4 linked regions of the Homo sapiens genome follow. The protein of the gene in region 1 purifies or fractionates together with the protein of each later gene. This does not show direct contact. Each region holds a gene or a part of one and is shown in the gene's direction. Other genes may lie near its edges. The genes, in order: RELL1, CHIA, VSIG4 and TRDN.

Region 1 (6,664 bases):
TGAACCCAGGGAATCCAGCTTGCATCTTGCCGTCCATTTCATTGGAAAACTGCTCCAGCAAGGCCACCAAAGAGCTTCTGTGGATTGTTTTTCTTTCTATTTTATTTTTGCCTGTTTATTTCCTTTTTTATTTTACTTTATCTTTAGAATTTTTAAAGAATGTTTACTTCAGGAAACTACAGAGAAACAGGGAGCAAAATCCAAGAAGGGAAAGGTTAAAAAATCCCAAGCTGCTCCTAAATTAGAAACTGAAGGTTTCCCATGTGTTCTTAGGAATTTCTGTGTGGCCTGATTTATCTGAGTTCTTCTCAAGCCTCTTTCTAAAGATTTCTCTTGGGTTGTGTCTTCATTTGTTTTCTGTTGCTATAACAGAATACCTAAGACTGGGTAATTTATAAAGAATAGAGGTTTATTTTGCTCACAGTTCTGGAGGATGGGAAGTCCAAGATTGGATAGCCATATCTGGTAAGGGCCTCTTGCTGCTTCATGACATCAGTGACAAAATGGAAGAAATCACATGGTGAGAGAGGAAGCAAGAAAGTGCCGAGGAAGCTGAACTCGCTTTTATAACAATCCAAACTCCCAATAACTAACCCCCTCCCATGAGAACTAACTCACTTCTGTGAGAACAACGTTAACTCCTTTATGAGCGTGGAGTCCCCAAGACCCAAGCACTTCTTAAAGGTCCCACTACAGCTCAACACTGTTACATTGGGGACCAAATTTCAACGTGTGTTTTGGAGGGGACAGATCATATTCAAACTATAGCAGGTTGTTTGTTTCTTTCCTTCTCTCTGTTTTTAAAAATTATGGTAAAAACACTTAACATGAGGTCTACTCTCTGAACAAATTTTTAAGTGCACAATACAGTATTGTGAGATCTCTAGAACTTATTAATCTCGTGTAACTGAAAATTTATATTTTGTGCCTGTTGATCATCAACTATCCCTATTCCCCTGCCCTCCCAGCCCCTGGCAAACACCATTCTACTCTCTGGTTTCTATGAGTTTGACTATTTTAGATACCATATATAAACAGAATTGTATAGTATTTGTCCTTTGGTGTCTGGCTTATTTCATTTAGCCTAATGTCCTCAGGGTTTACCCATGTTGTCACATTTGGCAGGATTTTCTTCTTTATAAAGCTGAATAATATTCCATTTTCATATGCCACGATTTCTTTATCCCTTTGTCTATCGATGGGAATTTTGGTGGCTTCCACATCTTGGCTGTTGTAACTAATGCTGCAGACAACATGGGAGTGCAGGTATCTCCTCAAGATCCTGATTTCAATTCTTTTTTTGGATATGTACCCAGAAGTGGGATTTCTAGATCACATGGTAGTTCTATTTTTAACCTTTCGAGAAGGCTTAATACTATCCAGCATAGCAGCGGCACCATTTTGCAGTTCCTTCGTATTTTAGTTGTGCTCTCTTACAGCATCTGACCCAGCTGACCACTTACCTCTTCTGGAAACTCATTCCTTTCTGTCCTAGACTGGAGCTCTGGCTGTTCTTCCTCAGCTTCTGAGTGGAGCAGATCCAGTTGCTCAATGCCTATTTCCATCTGGATGTCACCTGCTTACCTCTATTTCTGCGTGTTCAAAACTGAACTGTGACATTGTCCTCAAGATGCCAAGTGAATTCGTTTGCTAGAGCTGCCTCACAAAGTACCACAGACAGGGTGGTTTCAGCAACAGAGAAGTCCAAGAGGAATGTGTCAGCAAAGTTTCCTCCTTCTGAGGGCTATGAGAGAATCTGTTTCATGCCTCTCTCCTGGGTTCTGGTGATTTGCTGGCAATCTTTGGTGTCCCTTAGCTTGTAGAAGAAGCATCATCCAGATCTCTGCCTTTTTCTTCACATTTCCCCTTTTCAGAAGGACACCAATCATATGGGACTGGGGTCCACCCTGATGACTTCATTTTAACTAGATGACCTATGTAAAGATCCTATCTCCAAATACATTCTGAGGTATTGGGGGTTAGGAGCTCAACATATAAATTTAGGAGGGGGTGACAAAATTCAAACCATAACACCAAGCAAACTTGCTTTTTATATATATATATATATATTTCCCATCACAATGAATGGGTCCAATGTCCACTATGTTGCTCAAGCAGAAACTTGGACGTCATTTTTATTACATCACTTGCCCTTACATTAATTTGGGTTCAAGAAGTCACAGAACCGGGAGGCAAAATTTTGAAATAGGAATCCTAGCATCCATCAGACCTCACAAAGGGGTTTGTGACTCTCAAATGACTAACAGCCTCTGCTCTACATACTTTTTAAAGTGTCTACCATCTTGGTACAAAAGTACCACATACTAATTTTAGAAAGTTATAGAAAAGTATAAAGATAAAATTAAATTTATTTCATTATTTTAGTACCGAGAATCACTTAGCATTTTGGTTTTGGCTTTATACCTTCATGCGTTTTTATTTTTTAAAAAAACTAGTTGGATCATATTGCATGTAAGGTTTTGAATCCAGCTTTTGAAATTCAATATTGGATCATAGTGTTTTCCTGTATCTTCACAAAAAATTTCATAGATCTTTAAATAGTGCATATTATTTCATCAAATGAAACCATGATTTAGATATGTTTTTACTATCTCATTGCAAATATGCAGGTGTTGCTATTTTTTGACTTTTATAAATAATGCAACAACCTTTGCTATTTGGACTAAGTAACTTGTTCGTGATTCAGACATGATTCAGCTAGGGGTGAAGGAGAAGAAGGGATACAGTGTTTCTCAGCAAATTATTAGTGTAAATTGAAGGAAAGCTAAACCTACTGAAGTTTATAAATGTTTTAGACATTATGTATGAACAGTTACTTTGTTATTTAAAAGCTATTTTTCATTGAATTGTTAAGGTAGATCACAATATATTCTCCACTCTGCATCTTTCTTGTTAGCTATTCTTTATAATGCACAACAGGGCTGTCCAAAAAAACTTTCTGGGATGGTGGAAATGTTCATTATCTGGGCCGTCCAGTATGGTAGCAGTTAGCCACACATGGCCACTGGGCACTTGAGATGTGGCTAATGCAACTGAGGAACTGAATTTTTAATTTTATTTAAATTCATTTGGCTTAAATTTGAATTTAAATAGCTACATGTGGCTAGTGGCTATCTTACTGAATAATGCAGGTCTTTTATGATTATGACTAAAATACAGTGCCCACCTTTTTGTAGACACTCTTCTGAATGCTTTACATATTAATATTGTTTAATCTTCACAGTGACACCATGCAGCAGGCTTCCAGTTACTATTGCTGTATGACAAATAACCCCAAAGCTTAGTGGGTGAAAACAACAATCATTTCTTTTGTTTAAGGATTTGTTATACAATTTGGGCAGGGTTCATCAGAGACAGCTCTGATGCCCCATGGAGCATCAGTTGGGACTATAGGATCTACTTTTATTATGGCTATTACTGGCTGATAAGTTGATGCCTGCTATTTTCTCTCCACAGGGAAGCTTAGGCTTCCTCACAGCATGGTGGCTGGGTTCCAAGAGCAAGTGCCCCAAGAAACAGGAAGTGGAAGTTGTCAGTTTCTTATTGCCTGAGGCTGGAAAGTGATAATGCATCATTCCCAACACATTCTGTGGGTCAGGGAGAGTAGAGTGTAAATGTAAGGGGACGAGATACAGACCTCACCTCTCAGTAGAAGCAGTATCAAATAATTTTGAAGCTGGAAACCAAAAAGTATCTGAGACGGGTCTCAGTCAATTTAGAAGTTTATTTTGCAAAGGTTAAGGACATGTCCAGAGAAAAGGATCTCAAATCCACAGGAACAATCTGTGGTTCATGCCATTTTCCTAAGAAGATTTTGAGGGTTTCAATACTCAATACTTGTATTGAGTATTCAATACTTGTATTGAATATTGAGGTTTCAATACTTGTATTGAATATTGAGGTTTCAATACTTGTATTGAATATTGAGGTTTCAATACTTGTATTGAGGTTTCAATACTTGTATTGAGGTTTCAATACAAGGGGAAAGAGGGAGCAGATGTTCACATTACTGAATCTACCTGTTGCAAGGGAAAAGGAGCGGGCAGGGTAATAGTCAATTATGTCAGTCAGTCAGCACTTTACCTAAGATAAGGTGAGCATGGAGTAGCTACCTGTGCAGATACTTCACCTTTTATCAGTAGCTATCTGCCTAAGAACAAAAGGAAACGCAATTTCTTGAATGACTCAGCTTTCAGTTTAATTTTTTCCTTTTGGCATAGTAAATTGGGGTCTGAGATTAGATTTTTATTTCCCAGGGCCATCTTGTAAAATTATCACAGATTAGTCACACTCATTTTGATCCTTTTAACAGAGAGGAAACAGAGTACAGAACAGTTAAAATTACTCGCCTAAGGTGACATGTCTAGTATGTGGCCAATAACATGTCTGTTATTTCTGCCAGGTCTGAGCTTTTAATCTGAGTGCTATATTGCCTCTCCCTGTAATTTATATGCTTCACTAATGTAGATTAATATCTTCAGTTTTTTCATGGCACGATAATTATGAAATTAAGTGAATGACACATGTTTGTAAGTCACAGAGCTCTGTAGATATTTAGTGTTTGTTAGGGGTTGCCACATGTCAAATTCACGATGAAGACACCTTCTCAATCACCTGATTCAGAGGGAGGTGTTTGACTCCAATTCTGAGCCCCTCTTTCATCCCTCTTTCCCATTGTCCCCCTAAAAAAGAATTTATTTTCACCCCCAGATTGAAACAGACAGTGATTCTGAGTAAAGCTCCTTGATCTCAGCATGCTGCCTACTTCACCTATTCTTGTTGCGTGGAATATGTGTTATATAAAGGAATTAATAAAGAAAACATTGTTTTAGGACCATAAAAGGGATTAAATAAATGTTTCTGGTTTTTCCTGAAAATAAGGCATGAGGTTAAACCCTAACTTAGACGGTATATTGCATATATTTAGGGATGTATTTATTATATTGATTCTTCAGGGAGAAATCAGAAAACACTGGCTATTTCAAATTCTGGAGGTTGTCTGATAAAGTAATGAATGCAACCTCTTACAAACCTAAGAAACCAATTATTTCCTTTCATGTTCAAAGACAATGGATATTTCCATGCGAAAGAGAGGTAGTCTTTGTTCTATGGCCTCTGGTTTGCAAATAAAGCTTCTGTTTGATATTGTTTGTTTGCTGCTGTGATGAACCGTGCTCATTTCATACCAGGCATATTGTCCCCATTATAATCATTATGATGCAGGAGTTTTCTTCTCGGTCACTTTGTAAACTGGGGACCTCCTGGCTGGCGACGCTCTGCCCCAGCCTCGACGCCCTGCTTGGCCACGCTGGCGTGCTTCAGCTCCCCTGTGGTATAGCTTGTACCCACTTTCAGCAGTTCCCAAGCTCTTGTAGCGCACCCAAGAAGAATGAGGATACACGACACACTGAAGGGTGAGGAGGGCGGAGAAGAATTTTATTGAGCTATGAAAATGGCTTTCAGCAGAGAGGCAATGTGGGGCTCGGGGGAATGGTTCTACTTGAAGTTCCTCCTGTGTGGCTGGGTCTGGGGCCTTTTATGGACTCAGAATGGGGAGTGAGTGCTGATTGGTTTGTGAGGAAAGCGCACCAAACAGGAAGACAAGTCCTCCATCTGGTCCGAGGATTTAACTTGTAGCTTGGCTTTCAAGCTTTAAAATTCTTCAGCATGGAGGTGGGGTTTCACCAGGGACCCAACCCTGTCTGCCTGGGCATTTGACTGCCTCCTGCCACTCTCAATTACAATACGGATTCTTTTCTCACCAAAATTCTCTTGAGAAAGCTTATATTTAAATGTCTCTAGCTTTCCAATTTCTGGGTTTCTTGAGCAGTGTGTGTGAACCTCCCTTGATGTAGAAAACCTCACTTTATCCTTTCAGAGTCAGGATATTCCAAATACTGAAGCTTTGTTTCAGTCAAACCCCACAGTTTTCTTTGGTCCTCATCTACCTGACTCCCCTCTTCATTTTGTATTTCTCTCCTCATTTTTCCATGGCATGGTGCTCTGCTGATTCTTTTGCTACACGGTATGTTCTTCCTGAACTCCTGGCCTCAAGTGATCCGCCTGCCTTGGCCTCCCAAAGTGTTGGGATTATAGGCATGTGCCACTGTGCCCAGCCTAAATATTAATAGTGGTAGCTAACACATTTATAGTGCTTACTGTGTGACAGGAACATATATAAGGCTAACTTTTTAATACTTTTTAATTTAATTTAATTTTTTTTTTTTTTTTTTTGAGACAGTCTTGCTCTGTCACCCAGGCTGAAGTGCAGTGGTGCACTTCTTGGCTCACTGCAACCTCTGCCTCGCAGGCTCAAGCAATCCTCTCACCTCTGCCTCTCCAGTAGCTGGCACCACAGTTGTGTACCACAATGCCCAGCTAATTTTTGTATTTTTAGTGGAGACGGGGTTTCACCATGTTGCCCAGGCTGGTCTTGAACTCCTGACCTCAAGTGATTCGCCCCCTCCCCCCACCCCCTTCAGCCTCCCAAAGTATGTTCTTCCTGCGATCTCAGTTGGCCACATTGTATAATTGTGTGCTCCAGGCTCACTGCTTTCTGGAGTCCCTGTGGCACCCCTGCAGGCTAAGATATCAAACTGTCTCTCATATATATATTCATGTGATACTTTGACATGTCTAAAGG
Region 2 (3,500 bases), on another chromosome or scaffold:
AGGGGAAGAACGAATGGATGTGTCATCATTGACTACAGTGATCAGTTGGTGATTTCAGTAAGTACATCTTCCATAGATAGTAAACTTCGGACTCAGCATTCAGGAACATTTATTTGTGACAAGAAAGGTGTGAGACGAAGGTACCACGGTCATTTTTGATAAAGGTGGGGAAAGGTAGATCTACTGTTGTATTCACTGAAAAGCCTTTGGAATCACCACCAAATCTCACTGAGGTTGTAACAATTTATGGCAAATTGGAAGGCAATCAATCCTTCAGAATTAGATTCTACGGGGTACAGACAATCGGTTCAAAGTACATGCTTTTTCTTTCTATCCAGGTCTTGTCCTTATACTGAATTTGCAGCTCGGTAAGTCATGGACTCCATGTTTTATCATTGAATGTATATATACGAGATAAACCATACTATGGAAAGAGAGCCGCTGTTTGCTTCACAGACAGATGGGTTTGATTTGGGAGTAATCTAGTGTTTTGGATTGGCTGTCACTGCTATCCTCTTCAGCATGACCATCTGAATTATAAACTGGTACTCACTGGGCTTCATAGGACTATGGGCATCTTTTCTTAGAAGGCTGCTAGCTAGGCTTATCCAAAATCCCAAAATGAGTCTGTGAAAGTTAAAAATAAACAACTCCAAGTTAGTGACCAGTTCTGAGTTAGAATCTTAGGATGCATTTGCAAGAGTGTTCATACTAATTACCTCCACACAGAGATCAGGCATCTGAGGCACAGGGAGGGAAACAGAGGCAAGGCCAAAACTCACAGCACACTTCAGTGGATCCTAAACCAGGCCATTGTCCCTCCTGCTGACTACACACAGGCTCTGCCTACCAGCTGACATGCTACTTCACCAACTGGGCCCAGTACCGGCCAGGCCTGGGGCGCTTCATGCCTGACAACATCGACCCCTGCCTCTGTACCCACCTGATCTACGCCTTTGCTGGGAGGCAGAACAACGAGATCACCACCATCGAATGGAATGATGTGACTCTCTACCAAGCTTTCAATGGCCTGAAAAATAAGTAGGATGAGGGAGATATTTAATTTGGCATCCCCTTTTTCAGTACTTCCCAAACATTAATGCTTCTTAAAATGTAGTTCAGATCCATGGATCTGAGATGGGGACCAAGACTCTGCATTTCATTTTTCTTTTATAACTGACAAAAATTGTATGTGTTTACTATGGACAATGTAATGTTTTGAAATATGTATACGGTGCGGAATGGCTCAATCGAACTATCAACATATGCATTTCCACAAATACTTAATGTTTTTTGTGGTGAGAACACTTAAAATGTACTGTTTGCAATTTTCAAAATACAATATATTGTTACTAACAATAGTAACCATGTTGTACAATAGACCTCTGCAACTTATTCCTCATTTCTAACTGAAATTTTGTATCCTTTGACCAACATGCCCCCCAACCCCCATCCCCACACCACCCCCAGCCTCTGCTAACGACCATTCTACTATATACTTCTATGAGTTCAACTTCTTTTAGATTCCACTTATAAGTGAGATCATGTGGTATATGTCTTTCTGTGCCTGGTTTATCTCACTTAACATAATATCCTCCAGGTTTATCCATATTGCTGCAAATGACAGGATTTCTGCCTCTTTTTTAAGACTTAATAGTATTCATTGTATATAAAGACCACATTTTCTTTGTCCATTCATCCATTGAGGGGCACTTAGATTGATTCCACATCTTAGCTACTGTGAATAGTGCTGCAATGAACATGGAAATTCAGATATCTCTTCAACACACTGATTTCATTTCCTTTGGATGTAAACCCAGTAGTGTAACTGCTGGATCATATGGTAGTTATTTCTTTGATTTTTTGAGGAACATCTATACTATTTTCCATAATGGGTATACTAATGTTCATTCCCACCAACAGTGGGCAAGAGTTCCTTTTTTTTCCATGTCTTTTCCAACACTTACCTTTCATCTTTTTGATAACAGCCATTCTAAGCGGATTGAGTGGTATCTCATTTGATTTTGATATGTATTTCTCTGATGATTAGTGATGTTGAGCATTTTTTATACACTTGTTGACCATTGGTATGTCTTCTTTTGAGAAATGTCTTTTCAAGTCCTTGGCCCATTTTTTAATCAGGTTATTTGGTTTCTTACTACTGAGTTGTATAAATTTCCTATATATTTTTGATACTAACTAACTCCTTACTTGACATATGGTTTCCAACTATTTTCTCCCATTCCATAGGTAGTCTCTTCACTCTGTTTCCTTTGTCATGCAAAAGCTTTTTAGCCTGATGTAATCCCATTTGTCTATTTTTGCTTTTGTTGCTGCACTTTCCAGTCATATCCAAAAAATTCTTGCTGTAGCTCTTGGAGCTTTTTTTTAAGGTTTTCTTTCAGTAGTTTTACAATTTGAGGTCATAAATTTAGATCTTTAATCCATTCTGAGTTGACTTTGTTCAGTTTAGTCATATTTAAGAGAAGGAAAGCTACAGGTGATTGCTACTATCAGTAATGGCATTATCGTGAATACAGCTACTAGAATTTAAGTTACAATGACTAAGAGTAAATAAACTCCTTTACGGCAGTGTTTCTTGAAGTGTGCTCCATTGACTACTTGCCTCAAAATCATGTGAGGTACCTGAGTAAGTGTTAGTCCCTACTGCAATCCAACCGAATTGGAATCTCAGGGGAAGGGGCGATAAACCCAGATTTTTCATGTTGTCCTCCCACAACCCTTGCACTTAATTATTATGTATGTTAATGTTTGGGAATCTCTATTCAAGAGAATGTGTATAATTTCAAGCCAATTAATTTATTTTAACATTACAGAGGCTAAAAATGTAATTAAGCTCAAGCAACATTTACCATTTTATCTGATAGAATAGAATATTATATTAGCTATTCATGTTTTTTAAACTTACACAATCAAAGATACTGCCAACACACAATATTTTTTAAAGCCCAGTTTCAAAATTTAGATTTCCCTAGGGAACCCTGAGTGCATTCATGACAGGAACAACACAAAGAATTTTTATAAAGGAAGTTTTCAGTAGGGGAGGAAAATTGTTCTACAAAAGGCAAAACAAAAATATCTGACCAGATCCAACACTAAAGCAATGTATTTTAAATGGAGGGAGTCCTGACTTTTGAAGTTTATCTGTTTCTATCCTTTGTTTTACAGGAACAGCCAGCTGAAAACTCTCCTGGCCATTGGAGGCTGGAACTTCGGGACTGCCCCGTAAGTCTTCTATGGAGAGCATGTTGTTCGTTTGCTATGGAAAACAAGTTAGCCCCATGTGATCACTGTCCCTTTAGACTTCACAATCTAAGACAGGGTATTGAGGATGTACATAAACAAATATATGAATTAAATATATTGCTACACCAGAACCTCATTATTAAGTGGAACACAATTTATTTCATACATTTAATTTGGTGGACATTTGGGGGCCCTATCCACAGAGGTTTACTTACTGAGGTTCCCAAACAACC
Region 3 (6,664 bases), on another chromosome or scaffold:
CCCAGACAGTTTAATCCATCCATAGACAGCTCTGATTAATCACAAAGTTCGTTCTAAGGCAAACCATCTGTTCTGCGATGTGAAAAGCAGACAAGAATAACATAAAAAGAAATAGAATTAGGAAAATAGAGCAAACCAAAATCTGCCCCTCTTGTATTCCCATTCGTAGGTCTGAGTTCTGCTCTCTGCCAAATTCGAAGCATTCCAGAGAGTATGTAGTGGATCTAGCAACATGGACTTATGTTATTTATTCTTTTCTACTCAAGGGCTTTTTCTTGACTAAAATATGCTATTGATGTTCTAAGGGTCCCTGGTGAGGGCACAGGCTAGAGGCTTGATTTTATATCTCTATTAACAGAAGTCCTGATGCTGGACAGTATATTCTGGGAGTTAGAACGCATACACTCAACCCATCCAAAAGATGTCATCTTCCATCCGCTTGACTGAATACTGGGATTTCTAGGCTCAATAAAAGACTTTTATTCAGGAATACCTCATATCTTTGAAACCACCTCTCTTAGGAGAGACATGAATATATTGCCTAAATATACCCACCCCACACTCCTGGCCCCAGCTAAATAAAACAAAAAATCTTCTAAATAAGAGCTTATGGATGGAAAATTCTGATGGGAGGCAATGGCTGTTTCAACATCCCCACCTCCTTCCCCACCCCCACCCCCATCCCCAAGGGTTTCCTTCTCAAACACGCCAAGGAGCAATCTCCCATTGCTTCTATCACCACCCCTACTACAGCCAGCTTCAGGATTTCACTCAGAACCTTTTCCTCTCTAGACCAAAAATGGATGCAATCTTTTCCCCCTCAAGATGAAATTTTCCTATGTATCCTTGCTAAGAACTAAGAGAAACCAAAAGGAAAATAAACAAAAGAAATCAGAAAAAAAGTCAGGTTTACAAAGTGCAGGTTTTGAATTTAACAATAGCTAATGATTTTGTTAAACAGGAATGTGTATCCAGACTTCTTCCTCACACTTGGTTCCACCCTCAGTATTTCCTTTTGCCTGTCTTCCAGAGAACATCTTAGGGTTGGGACCCCACTCACTGAGGATTTCTAAGGGAACAAGAGAAGATAACAGGGCAGAGGGCCCTTTCTTGCTGATCTCAAAAGCCTCCACCTTTCTCCAGGTGCAAATTTACACAAAATGAAATAGTCCAGACCCAAATGCTTAGCATTTTTGCTTCCACATCTCTTTTGGAAAATGTGAAAAGAAAATTTTTTCATGGATTTGCAGAATGACAGATTTGATAGAATATCTAGAGCACCTACCACCCAAACTCTCCACATTATAGATGAAGTAAATGAATCTTCCACGGTAAGAAGGTGACTTACCTAGGATCACCTTCATAGCAAGACAGTAACATAAAAAGGACTTGAAACTCACAAGATCTAAACAATGTTAAAGGCTTTCATTCTGAAGACTGGTTCTGATTGATGAGAAGGCTGGCAAAGAGCAAAAGGGCACAGGTACACAAAAGTGTGATAGAAAGAAAGTTGAGTGGCATTTCTCAGAAACCTTTTGAGGTTTGTCACTGTCACCTTAGTTGCCAAGTAGGTATGCCATCTACGTTTGCTTCTTTCCTCTGTTCCGCCTCTTCAGGCCGTCCCATCCTGGAAGTGCCAGAGAGTGTAACAGGACCTTGGAAAGGGGATGTGAATCTTCCCTGCACCTATGACCCCCTGCAAGGCTACACCCAAGTCTTGGTGAAGTGGCTGGTACAACGTGGCTCAGACCCTGTCACCATCTTTCTACGTGACTCTTCTGGAGACCATATCCAGCAGGCAAAGTACCAGGGCCGCCTGCATGTGAGCCACAAGGTTCCAGGAGATGTATCCCTCCAATTGAGCACCCTGGAGATGGATGACCGGAGCCACTACACGTGTGAAGTCACCTGGCAGACTCCTGATGGCAACCAAGTCGTGAGAGATAAGATTACTGAGCTCCGTGTCCAGAAACGTGAGTCACTATGGGGGTAGGAAAGCACTGATAATCAATGAATCAATAGTGGATGTAATTCTAGAAAAGCCTGAAAAATCCAGAGGCCTTCGTTTATACAGAGGCTCTCCACAGGTATATGTGCTTATCAGAGGAAGTGGACAGGCAGAGGATTCTTAGGGTCAGCATTCCCATAGTTAAATTTAGGAAGTGCTGGGAAGGGTTCCTGACCTGCAAATCTCTATCCCTTCGAGTGTCCCAGAAATGCCAGTATCCATGGACTAGTTACCCTCCTTGGGCTCTGGGCTTTACAACTCAAAAATGAGTACATTTAATTTGTAGATAGATGCTGATAGAGAAGCTCTGGGGAAAGGGAGGCAGAGGTTAGCCAGGATAAGTTTGCTTGCTGGACAATTTTACAAAAGTCTGGCCCTGATAATCCACAACTGCAGGTAATCAAAAGCTCTACTTGAGCCCCAGAACAAACTACATTAATTTTAAAGGTCAGTTGATTTTTACTTCCAAGTATTCCAAAACCCCGGGTAATACCAAAAAGTACCTACCTTCAAAGGAAGCCATTTTATTTGTATTGCCCTTTCCTTCTTATTTCCTCCAAAGTCAGAAGCCCCCTTTAGTTCCAGTTGCAGATATATGCATGCCCTTACGCCCAACAAGAATGATTCAGCCTTTTGGTCCCATATCCTTATGACTGCCCAGAGTTTCCTGTCTTGTCTTTTCTTTGCAGTCTCTGTCTCCAAGCCCACAGTGACAACTGGCAGCGGTTATGGCTTCACGGTGCCCCAGGGAATGAGGATTAGCCTTCAATGCCAGGCTCGGGGTTCTCCTCCCATCAGTTATATTTGGTATAAGCAACAGACTAATAACCAGGAACCCATCAAAGTAGCAACCCTAAGTACCTTACTCTTCAAGCCTGCGGTGATAGCCGACTCAGGCTCCTATTTCTGCACTGCCAAGGGCCAGGTTGGCTCTGAGCAGCACAGCGACATTGTGAAGTTTGTGGTCAAAGGTGAGCGGCCCTCTTTCCTGGTGAGCATCTTAACACACAAGCTTGAAACAAAGATACCTCAAAAGGTGCCCTTATGCAAAAGAAGAATTGGGAGAGGAGGATCCCAAGCAGGCAATGGTTGTACAATCACAAAGAAAAAAAACTTGGACTGGGGACAACAGGGATAGAGACATTGCCTATCATGCCATAGGTTAAGTAGATAAAGACGGTAAAGGAAAGAGAGATTTACTAGCACATTGTATTTGCCAGATACAAAGTACAATAACTTGACACACATTTTCTCATTGAATCCCCACAACTGTCCCATGAGATAGTTATCATTACTCTTACTTTACAGAAGAGGAAACAGAGTCAGAAAGGGGAATCTACTTGCCCATGGTCTCACAGCAAGGAAGTATAAATCTGGATTTGTACTCAGATTTCATGCTCTTCCTACTATGTCTGATTGTTTCTCATGGTTGAATCTATATCAGATCCTGGGCACCCTTTGAAAGCTGTTGTTTTTTGTTTGTGTGTTCTGTTTGTTTGGTTATTGTTTTGCTTGTTTGATTAGGCTTGATCTAATATATCTACATGCTTTCTTTTAACTTCCCTCCCCCACTTCATTGTAAACCCAAATACAAGTTCTGGTTGAAGTATCCTTTAAGATGGGCTCTTGTTAATCAAGATCTGACTATTTCTTACAGCACTGTCCTGGGAGCACTACAAACTATGCATATAAAGACTGTAAGCTGAGGCTTAAATGAAGAGTCCAGCAGTGATATGTCCAGATGAGTTTTCTTAGCTTTCAAGAGATCTCCTTGGAAAGAAAGACACCCCAACAAGGTTACCATTGCCCAAAACATGTTGGAAACTAACTGATTTTAGGGAATTGCCCTCAGAACCATCTGAAAATTATTGTCTTCTGAGGATAGTTCTGTGTAAGGAGAGGGCGTAAACCTAGCCCAAATGGCTTATTACCATTTGGGCTAGGAGACTGATGTTGGTTTGAGACTCTTGTGTTTGCCTGGAGGAATTTGTTTCCCAAAGTTAAGCTGTAGTGAGGATGTGTGTGCTGTAGATCATGGTTTGTTAGTTTTGGGAGGAACAAGAGTGGTCCGCCCTGAAAGTTATATGAACAGTGTCCCAGTTCTCTAAGAGCTGACAGTCTGGTCAAGCAGAGAGGGCAGGGCGTGACCAGAAAGCCCAAGAATGTATACTTCATAAAGAGACTAATTGAACATTCTTGCCTTTCTGTGAGTTACTTCTCAGACCACCTAGGCAAGAACTTGCTCACAGTAAACCCTCCTGTTTATTCCTTCTCACAGTCAATGCTTATTACAGTGCTGTTAAGCAGTGCTCGCCATTGCCCCCTACTGACAGATAGGAAAACTGAGGCTCAGGGAAGTTATTCTCAGCCTTCCACTCTTCCCTGCTCTGTGAGCCAACGTAATCTTTCCTGGCTACCTCTACCTGCCTCCCTGTCCACCCAACCTTGTCCCCTGAGTCTGACCCCCTATTTCACCTCTGCCCTACGGAACTCTCAGCCCTTTCACCCTTCCACCTCACTCTGCACTGTTCTTTAGTTCTAGAATGACTCTGGAGGCCCTGCTTTTGCTCATGTTCTTGGACTGCTGAGCTTTGCTGACGAACAAAACAAAACACAGATATGAATTGACTCCACTTGAATTTTATGCTCTGCGATATGTACTGCCTGACCCCATGCCGTGTGTCTATTTGCTTATCTTTGTCTCATTCCTCATAGCAGCTTTTCAGCACATTTCTACCTTATTTCAGGCCCCCAGCCTTGCTCCTAAAAGATAAGGTAACTTCCTTCCTCTGTAAGAAGGTCCAGACCCTCTTCATATGTGAATTTTATCAACTACCCTCCTCTCTGCCTTGATATTTCCCTATCCATTTCCTCTTGGCTCAGAGTAAGGTATGCTTTGCTCCTCTCCACAACAAGCCCCTCCTCCTGAACTCTTAACATCAGCTACTCCAATGCCCTGCAATACCCTTTATCCTCTACCTAAGCCAAATAGATATGCATGTATAATATATGTATATATGTCAGTATGCAAGCCTAATACATACATATATATATGTTATTTTTCAAAAATCTTTCTCTCCATCTGCCACCTCATCTCTCCTATGTTCACTACCAACCTTCTCACGAAGGTAGCTTCCACCAGCTGAACCTCTCAATTCATTCACCACAACATAACTTTGTAATTTGGGGTCATCATTAACCTCCATATCACCAAATCCCAAGACCTCTCCATTCATACTTTTCCTCCTCAACATCTGTGTAGCAGTGGATCCTGTTGGCCATTTCTTCCACCTCAATATTCTTTTAATCACTGCTATTGATGACACCAACTTATCTTGGTTCTTCTAAGACCTTCCTGAATGATCCTTCTGAGACACCTTTGTTGGCTCTTTTTTCATTCACTCCTTAATTGTAAATGTTCTCAAAGACTCAATTCTTATTCATCTCTGCATGTATTTCTATATTATCAGGAGATTTTATTTACTTCTGTGGCTTCAAATATCACCTGTAGTCTGATGACTCTCCAACCATAATATTATCTGTATTTATTTTTTCCTGACTGCTAGATCCCAGTGTCTAGTTACCTTCTGGACAGCTTCATTTCTAATTTCAGCGTGTTCAAAACTGATCGTACCTTTTACTCACCAAACCTGTTCCTCAAACCTGTTAGAAAACATAGCAGTACCTTTGACTCCTCCTTCTCTTTTACCTCGCATCGTCAAATAATCATCAATATTACCAAGTGCTGTGAATTCACCTACTGAATCAGATACCTTATTAGGCTCTTTCTTTCTCTTCCTATACCCTCATGGTCTCATATTCTTTTTTAAAAAACAATTTCAATCATCTTCTAAATGTTCTCCCCATGTTCATACATTCTTACGAAGTCATCAACTTATTCAATATTTATTGAGTATATATTTTATGTCACTAGATTATAAAATTCAAGAGTGCAGAATTCTACCTGTCTACTTCATTGCTGTTTTTCAGAGCCCAGCAAAGTATCTGGCACAAAGAAGACACTAGACACTAGATGAATACTGTATTTGTTAATGAATGGGGAAAATATGCTATTGCCTTACCTTTGAAAATCCTACCACACTGTTGTCAGAATTATTTCCAAAAAAAATAGACTGAACAATTTTTGCTTCCTTTCTCAAAAGGAAGTAAACCTTTCTCAAAAGGTGTAACCTTCTGTTACACCCCATGGATCTTTCCAACTAAAGAACAAAGCCCAAACCCTTTTAGTCTGTTTTCAGCCTACCTATCCAGACTTATCTACTAATATGTTTCGCCACATCTAAAACGGAGCATGCTGTTTCCTCTGCTAGCAAGAGGGAGAAGCTTATGGTTTTCTCATGTCTTTTCTGAGCAGGTACATGGCCCTGTGCTTGTGTGTGGCCTCCTAGTTTCCCAGAACTGTGTCAGAACTCTTCAAAATCCCTATGGAAATCTTATTCCTCAACCATTTTTAAGGCTATTTTGGTTAGTTTTTTTTGTTTTCTCGCCTATTATCCATTGCCTCAGGCAGCTGTGTGACAAATGCTACCCCATCCCTGGGGAGAGGCTCTTAGCACTGGGTGACCAATAAAACAAGTCTTTTGAGTCAGGTCTTTCAGGGAACCACCAGACAGGCCAAATAATGGCAATTATTCA
Region 4 (6,664 bases), on another chromosome or scaffold:
AGTATGGACACACAGTAATTTCTGTTGGAGATTTTTAGTCAATATTTATAAGAAGTGCCTTATTTGTACCTTGCACTGAGAAATTCAGTCTGACACCTCGTATTAATAACAATTACTGAGAGATTTCTATGTGTTAGGTATTTTGCTCAGAACGTTATGTGTGTTTACTTATTTAAAACTGACACAATTCAATTAAGTAGGCATTATTATCTCAGTTTGGCAGAAAAAGGAACTGTAACTAAAATGTTATGTGACTTGCTCAAGACCAGCATTACCAACATTTAAACCCAGCCCCTTTAAATCTTGTTTGTGTGTGTGTGTGTGTGTGTGTGTGTGTTTTCTTTTCTGTGAGAGGATATCAGGTTTACTCTTTACCAATTTTAGTTCAGAATTTGCTAACTAAATATAAATAGCATTTTTCCTATTCCTTAGATATTCTGTGTCATGTTGCTTTTAGTTTGCCTTAAAGAAAGCTATGTATAAAAACTTCTTGTTTAGCTCTGCACAAGTTATTAAGATAGCTACGAGCGTCTTAATCTTCTGTTTCTCTACCTCTGTTCAGGGTTTGGGCTCCCAGGTGATTCAGGAGGTCAGTTGACTAAACCATCTTGGGCTTGCTTGTGGATTATGTTTTGTAGAACTTGCATTTGATTCAAAAGACTTTTTACAGGAAAATTCTTGATTATGAAATAGAGCTTTTGTTTCTGCCTTTGCTCTGCGGGGGTTTAAAAGGGCCTTGGAAGACCTTCTGGAGTTACCCATAAAAATAATTACATTAGTAATAAAATTAAAAAGTAGAAATACCATCTAATTCTTGGGTGATGGTCATTTTCCACTTCCGGGCCTTAACAGTTCATAGGATCTATGTTATCTGAACATCAATTATGCATTTTTTTTTGTTTTCTGGAATGATTTATTAATAATATTTCTCAAATGAAAATTAGACTGCCAACTCAAATGAACTCATCTTTTAAGGAAGCACAGTCATTCTTTGATGATATCCAAAGTTTTTTCACACTTTGTTACTACACAGTTTCATGTTATCTTTGCAATTCTCACCTTTTGTGCCCTAGCTACAATTGTCTTCCTCCAGTCTTTTATAAAAGGTATACCTTTGTACAGTGCCTTGGTACAGGCTATTTTCTGAGCCTGAAATAGTCTTATTTTATCTCATCTGCTATATTTTTTTCAACCATTTATTTATTTATTTTATTTTTTTTAGAGCAGAATTTTTCTCTGTCACCCATATTGGAATGCAGTGGCATGATCATAGCTCACTGCAGTCTCAAACTCCTGGGTTCCAGCAATCTTTCTACCTCAGCATCAGAAGTAGTTAGGACTACAGGTGTGCACCACCATGCCTGGCTAATTTTTTTTTTATTATTATTTTTGTAAAGACACGACCTCCTTATGTTGACCAGGCTGTACTTAACTACTGGCCTCAAGCCAAGATTCTCTTGCCTCTGCCTCCCAAAACATTGGGAATACAGGCAAGAACCATCACGCCTGGGGCTTGCAATCACTTTTGGACACATTACTGAAATGTAAGCACTCTATCAGTAGACCTATGCCACCTATCAATCAATTACCTTTTCCATCCATTTATCACGCACACACACAAAACAGTTTGTGGCACTTAAGAATATAAGAGATAACTCATTACCTTAGAAAGCTCTAGTTAACTGTTCTCATCTCAAGTTTTGGGAAGACAAGGCTCATACAGATTATATGACTGTCTCATGGTCATGGGAAATTAGGAGAGATCTGAGGATAAATTTCATGCCTCCCATGGCTCATCCCAGTGCTTATTCAACTACAGTGCATGTCGTGCCTATAACCTCACCTAGTTGCTCACATCAATTTCCACTGCAGGTTCCAAGCTGGCTTACTTCATCCAGTGGAAGAAAGGAAATAATGCTAAATACAGAATTGTGTTTCAGGTACAGAGTAATAGATAAATTAGAAATAGGACAAAGTTGAACTCCAAAGGATTTTAGGGTAATAACACCTTTGATTCTGGCAAAATAAATTAATAAAGATAATTATAACAGCAATGATAACATATTTATTCTGAAGACATAAGATGTCAAGCACTGTATTAAGCTTGATAAATATTCATTTAATCTTCAGGGCCACCAAATGAGAATAAAGGCTAATATTATTGCTGTTTAGAGAATAGGAAGCTGAAGTTGAGAGAGTTTAAAGAATGTGCTAGAATTCACACAACTGTATGTGATATAGCTAGGATTCATACCCATGCCTGACCACAGAGTCATATTGGATATGTCTTCTTACTGTGTGAGACTGTTAGGTTGGTCAATTAGGTTGTTATTGGAGCCTACACTAGGACCATGTTACATTTAGGTAGGTTGAATCAGGCCCAGACTGGATTACACTCAAACAGCACACAGGTTTAGGGCTATAAACAGTCCTTTATCTTCCTTGCAATGTAATGTATCCAAGTTGCTGGGAATCCCATATATAATTAACTTAGTATTTACTAGAACGCTTAGTTCAAGAAAGCTTTTTATTTAAAATGTTAGAAGAGCTTATATCCAACTCTCAACTTATAAACTATTACATAACCTCAGGCTTCAGGAGAAGAATTATTGCACTATGTGTGGAATTCTTTCCTTACCATTAGCCGAATCACGTTTCACTGCTTCTGTAACAATCAAACCTATGAGAAGATTTGATATTCAAAATTTAGAGCAAAAATGGTCATTTATATTCTACACACTGCATTACTCCCATAGAGTCTGCAGCACAAGATTACTCACTATTGCTCTCAAGAAAAAAAAAAAATCAAGAATTCACAGCCAGACTACTTAACAACTAGGCAAACAAGTTATATCATCTAGCATGACAGATGGTGAAATTATGAGGCGATCCAACCTATGTTTCTGCATTTACCTCATCAAAGCAAAGGGCAGCTGCCCTGGCTTAAGCGGGGATGAGCTGGGGGTACAAAGGGATGTAGCACTAGTTTCAAGCCCTGGTCACTTCCAGGAGATGTTCTTGATTTTCCTGATAAAGCAACATACCACATATATTATTTTTAGTCTTATAAGTACATTTTAAAACTGACATTAGAAAGCTAGCCTATTCAAAAGAGGAGTACCACGATGGTGAAAGGCACAGTTAAATGAAAAGATTTGTGCATGGTTTGTTTAAGTAGAAGACTGGATTTTTTCATTATGTAGCACTTGAGGGCAATGCACAGACCCATGGATAAAAGTCTGGAAGTCACAAAAAAGGCACACTATTGGCAAAATACAAGGCAAAACCCAACCAACCATTAAAATGATAGCTAGAACTGACTCTTCTGACTAGAAAGAAAGAAAAGAGAAAGCAAGAAAGGAGGGAAGGAAAAGGAAATACACAGCCTCCAATTTTTAAGAAATAGAGGGATGAGGAATATGCCAAAATCTACACCATAGTAGGCAGTAGGCTCTGGGAACCTCTACAGTACAAACAACCCAGTTACTTCAAATAAGTTCCTGGGAACAAGAACAAGAAAATCTGGAGAACAGATGAAAAGAAATGTAAAAAGTTAGCAACCCATCACAATGTATGGAATGGTTGGATCATGATTCAAACAAACAACCTTAAAAAATTCTGATGAAACAAGTGAAAATTTAATATACTCTGGATGTTAGATAACCTTAATGAATAATTATATTTTTAGTGGGATAACCGTATTGTGGTTGTCTTTTAAAATTACTTATTATTTGGAGATACACATTCAAATATTTATGAAGGAGGTGATGTGATATTTGAAATTTGCTTCTAAATAATATGCCCAAGAAGAAAGTAGTTGGGGTGTGGGTGGGGTAGGATTGGCCATTAGTTGATTATGTTGAGGCTGATAATGGGTACATTAAGTTTCATTATAATATTGTCTACTTTTGGGATTATTTAAGCTTCTTCACAATAAAGAGTTAAGAAAAAAAACAGAGTTGATGTTGTTAGTAGAGTAAATCTTTTAATAAGAATTTAATTTTCATAACATATATGGGTCAGTGAATTCTCTGGTCACCAAATTTATTCGTAAGTGCAAATTACTCTCTAAATTGAACAGTGTCTGTTGTTACTGAAATGAAAACCAAATATGCTCATATTAAGCAGAGTAGTCTGGAAATATACTTATGTTTGTAAAAGCAGACAAGGAAGTAATCATTTTTAATATCTATTATAATATGGGAATCTGGAGGTTAGTTTCATATTATTGGTAACATTAATTAGAGACATTAATTAGAAATAGTTTGTTTTTGAGATAGGTCATGGGAAAACCTGAGAACAATTTGAAAGCCTAAGAAGTCAACATGATGCAAGAAAAAATAGTTCTAAAAAGTGCTATGGCTTGGAACATTGCATTTATTGACAGGGTATTAAGTATGAAGCTTTTGTATGACTATCTCTTTGAAATATCACAAAAACTGTGAAAGGCAGGTATCACATAAACCTGATTAGTCTGACTCTGAAACTTCTTGTTATTCTTTACTGCTCAAGTTCACTTTAGGAAAATAGAAAAAAAAAAAAAAGCAGATTGTGAAAACCAGGAGAGTATAGTTCACTGAAAATCAGAGAGAAAATATAGTGCAGAGCTGGGAGAAAGAAGCATTAAGAAAAGAGAGTGTGATAGAGTAGTAAGTGCATGGAGTTTTACTTAAGTCAGAAATTGGGGTTCAGGCACTATCTCCACTACTCAACCACTCTTGGTCTGGGGAGGATGGGGCCTCAAAAGAAGGGTCATGAACTTGGTTAATTAAAAATAATATGGCCAGAGGAATTTTTAAAAATTTTACAAGATCATGCTATTTGGCAAATTAAGTTTATGTTTTTTAAATTGTTCAAATCATCCATGATACAAAATTTGCAGTGACAATGAGCAGAAAATATAGCTGTGTAGTGTCAGCCCTTGTTAGGTTCCGTTAAGAAGCTTTTTCTTGTAGTTTTTATTATTATTTGTAATAGGAACTATTTTTCTCCCCACCCCATAAGCACATAGTATCCATGAAAATGTTCCGTTTATGAGCTTAAATGTTTCTTATTTTTTTTCCTATTTATTTTTGGTTATCATTATGACTGTAATTTAAAATTCATGCTACTTTTACAATGCAAAAATGAATTGAGGCTATTCAGTTATTATACTAAAGGCTTAGGAATCCATAGAGACTTAAGGCCTCCAATACTGTTGGCATTAATTTTTAATCAGTTAACAATATTTAATATGAGAGAAACATAAAACAGTGCAACTAAGCAATTTTAAAATCATCTACATTGACCTTTGTGTTGAATATATCAATTTGAAAAGAAAATGGTTAAGATTTTCCAGTAAAGCTTTTGGTTTTATAGTTATGCTTAGTTGGAGCTTAAAGATAGTATTAAAACATTATTCTTTTCTTCTTTCAAACAAAAAGAAACCCGTTGGGGACATGTTTAATGTATTTTTAAAAAATACATATTATCTAATGTAACATATTTAAAAAGAACAAAGCAGGGGAAAAATCTTCATCTGGCAACTATGCATTAACATCATACAATAATGTCGACTTTACGGAGTTCAGGCTCCATTTTACTTAAAGTTCTAGGAAGATTTGTCAAGGTTAAGTTTTTGCTGTCTCCAGTTCCCACCTGCCCTGGATAATACGAATGACAGGCTTGGTTTTTTACAGAGAATACTTATTTGATTGTCATGTAAATATATATTACCCCTAGTGAGGGTTATGCAGAGACAGATGAACTTCCTGGTCCAAACAGATAGTAATTTTTATCTTCAAAGGAAACCAAAAAGAGTATCCTTGGCAAATGTGCAATGAATAAAGTCTTGCTCTGCTCTATACAAGTTAATGCTCTCTAAACATCAAACATCTCCACATCTCCATGCCTGAAGTGAAGCTGTCAAAGACACACAGAATTTACAATTGTGAGAGATTCTTTGGTATGTAAATGAGCTGTTTCCTCATAAACTGCAGACTCTATCTCACTTACAATGTACTTTAAATATTACATTTAAATATATGTGGTTTAGATATTTTCTAATTTGTTATCTGTGCCAGAAGCTAGGGCATGTGGTTTTCACCCAAACAAGTTAAAGACATGATATTTTGACCTATAAGAACAAAGATAATTTAAATGGAGCAACCTGTTCTTTATAGGGGAAACTTGGTTTCATTTAGACAGCATGAAGCTGGAACTCATTGTGACAAACCAGTTTTATCTTTGCTACGCATTTGCTGCATCATTCTCCCCTCCCTGACACAGGTTACTGAAGTGTTGAGAAAAACAAAAGAAGGAAAAACTCTTAGTATTTCAAACTTAGTTTTAATATGGTCTAGGGCATTAGTGAGCTCGTGGATGTGAGAGATTCAGTTTCCATTTATACAGACGTTCAAAATACATATTTAGCAAACTTTCCTTGGAAAATTGTCTGTTGCCTTTGAAAATAAAATTATCATGTGATTAGGGGAATTTTCTGTTTGAGGAAGACATTTAATATAATGTCAAGACAAAAATAAGAGATATGAAGTGGCACTTCTCTGACATTCACTGCTGGAGCTATTATTTTTGCCCATGGTTATTCTGATTTAACCTATATATTATTGACTAGGGGAAAAAGCGTACTGTAAAATCTGAAAGTTACTACAGTATAGTAAAATGC

What was found.
Region 2: the proteins of RELL1 (region 1) and CHIA purify together in Homo sapiens (co-immunoprecipitation; one large-scale study listed by IntAct). This does not show direct contact.
Region 3: the proteins of RELL1 (region 1) and VSIG4 purify together in Homo sapiens (co-immunoprecipitation; one large-scale study listed by IntAct). This does not show direct contact.
Region 4: the proteins of RELL1 (region 1) and TRDN purify together in Homo sapiens (co-immunoprecipitation; one large-scale study listed by IntAct). This does not show direct contact.

The regions. Positions count from the first base shown.
Region 1 is NC_000004.12:37,650,649-37,657,312, reverse strand, and holds part of RELL1 (RELT-like protein 1 precursor), read left to right. Parts: intron 1-6,664. UniProt on the Homo sapiens protein: Induces activation of MAPK14/p38 cascade, when overexpressed. Induces apoptosis, when overexpressed.
Region 2 is NC_000001.11:111,311,351-111,314,850, forward strand, and holds part of CHIA (acidic mammalian chitinase isoform c precursor), read left to right. Parts: intron 1-338; coding exon 339-368; intron 369-839; coding exon 840-1,041; intron 1,042-3,189; coding exon 3,190-3,246; intron 3,247-3,500.
Region 3 is NC_000023.11:66,028,783-66,035,446, reverse strand, and holds part of VSIG4 (V-set and immunoglobulin domain-containing protein 4 isoform 1 precursor), read left to right. Parts: intron 1-1,616; coding exon 1,617-1,973; intron 1,974-2,697; coding exon 2,698-2,979; intron 2,980-6,664. UniProt on the Homo sapiens protein: Phagocytic receptor, strong negative regulator of T-cell proliferation and IL2 production. Potent inhibitor of the alternative complement pathway convertases.
Region 4 is NC_000006.12:123,628,997-123,635,660, reverse strand, and holds part of TRDN (triadin), read left to right. Parts: intron 1-6,664. UniProt on the Homo sapiens protein: Contributes to the regulation of lumenal Ca2+ release via the sarcoplasmic reticulum calcium release channels RYR1 and RYR2, a key step in triggering skeletal and heart muscle contraction.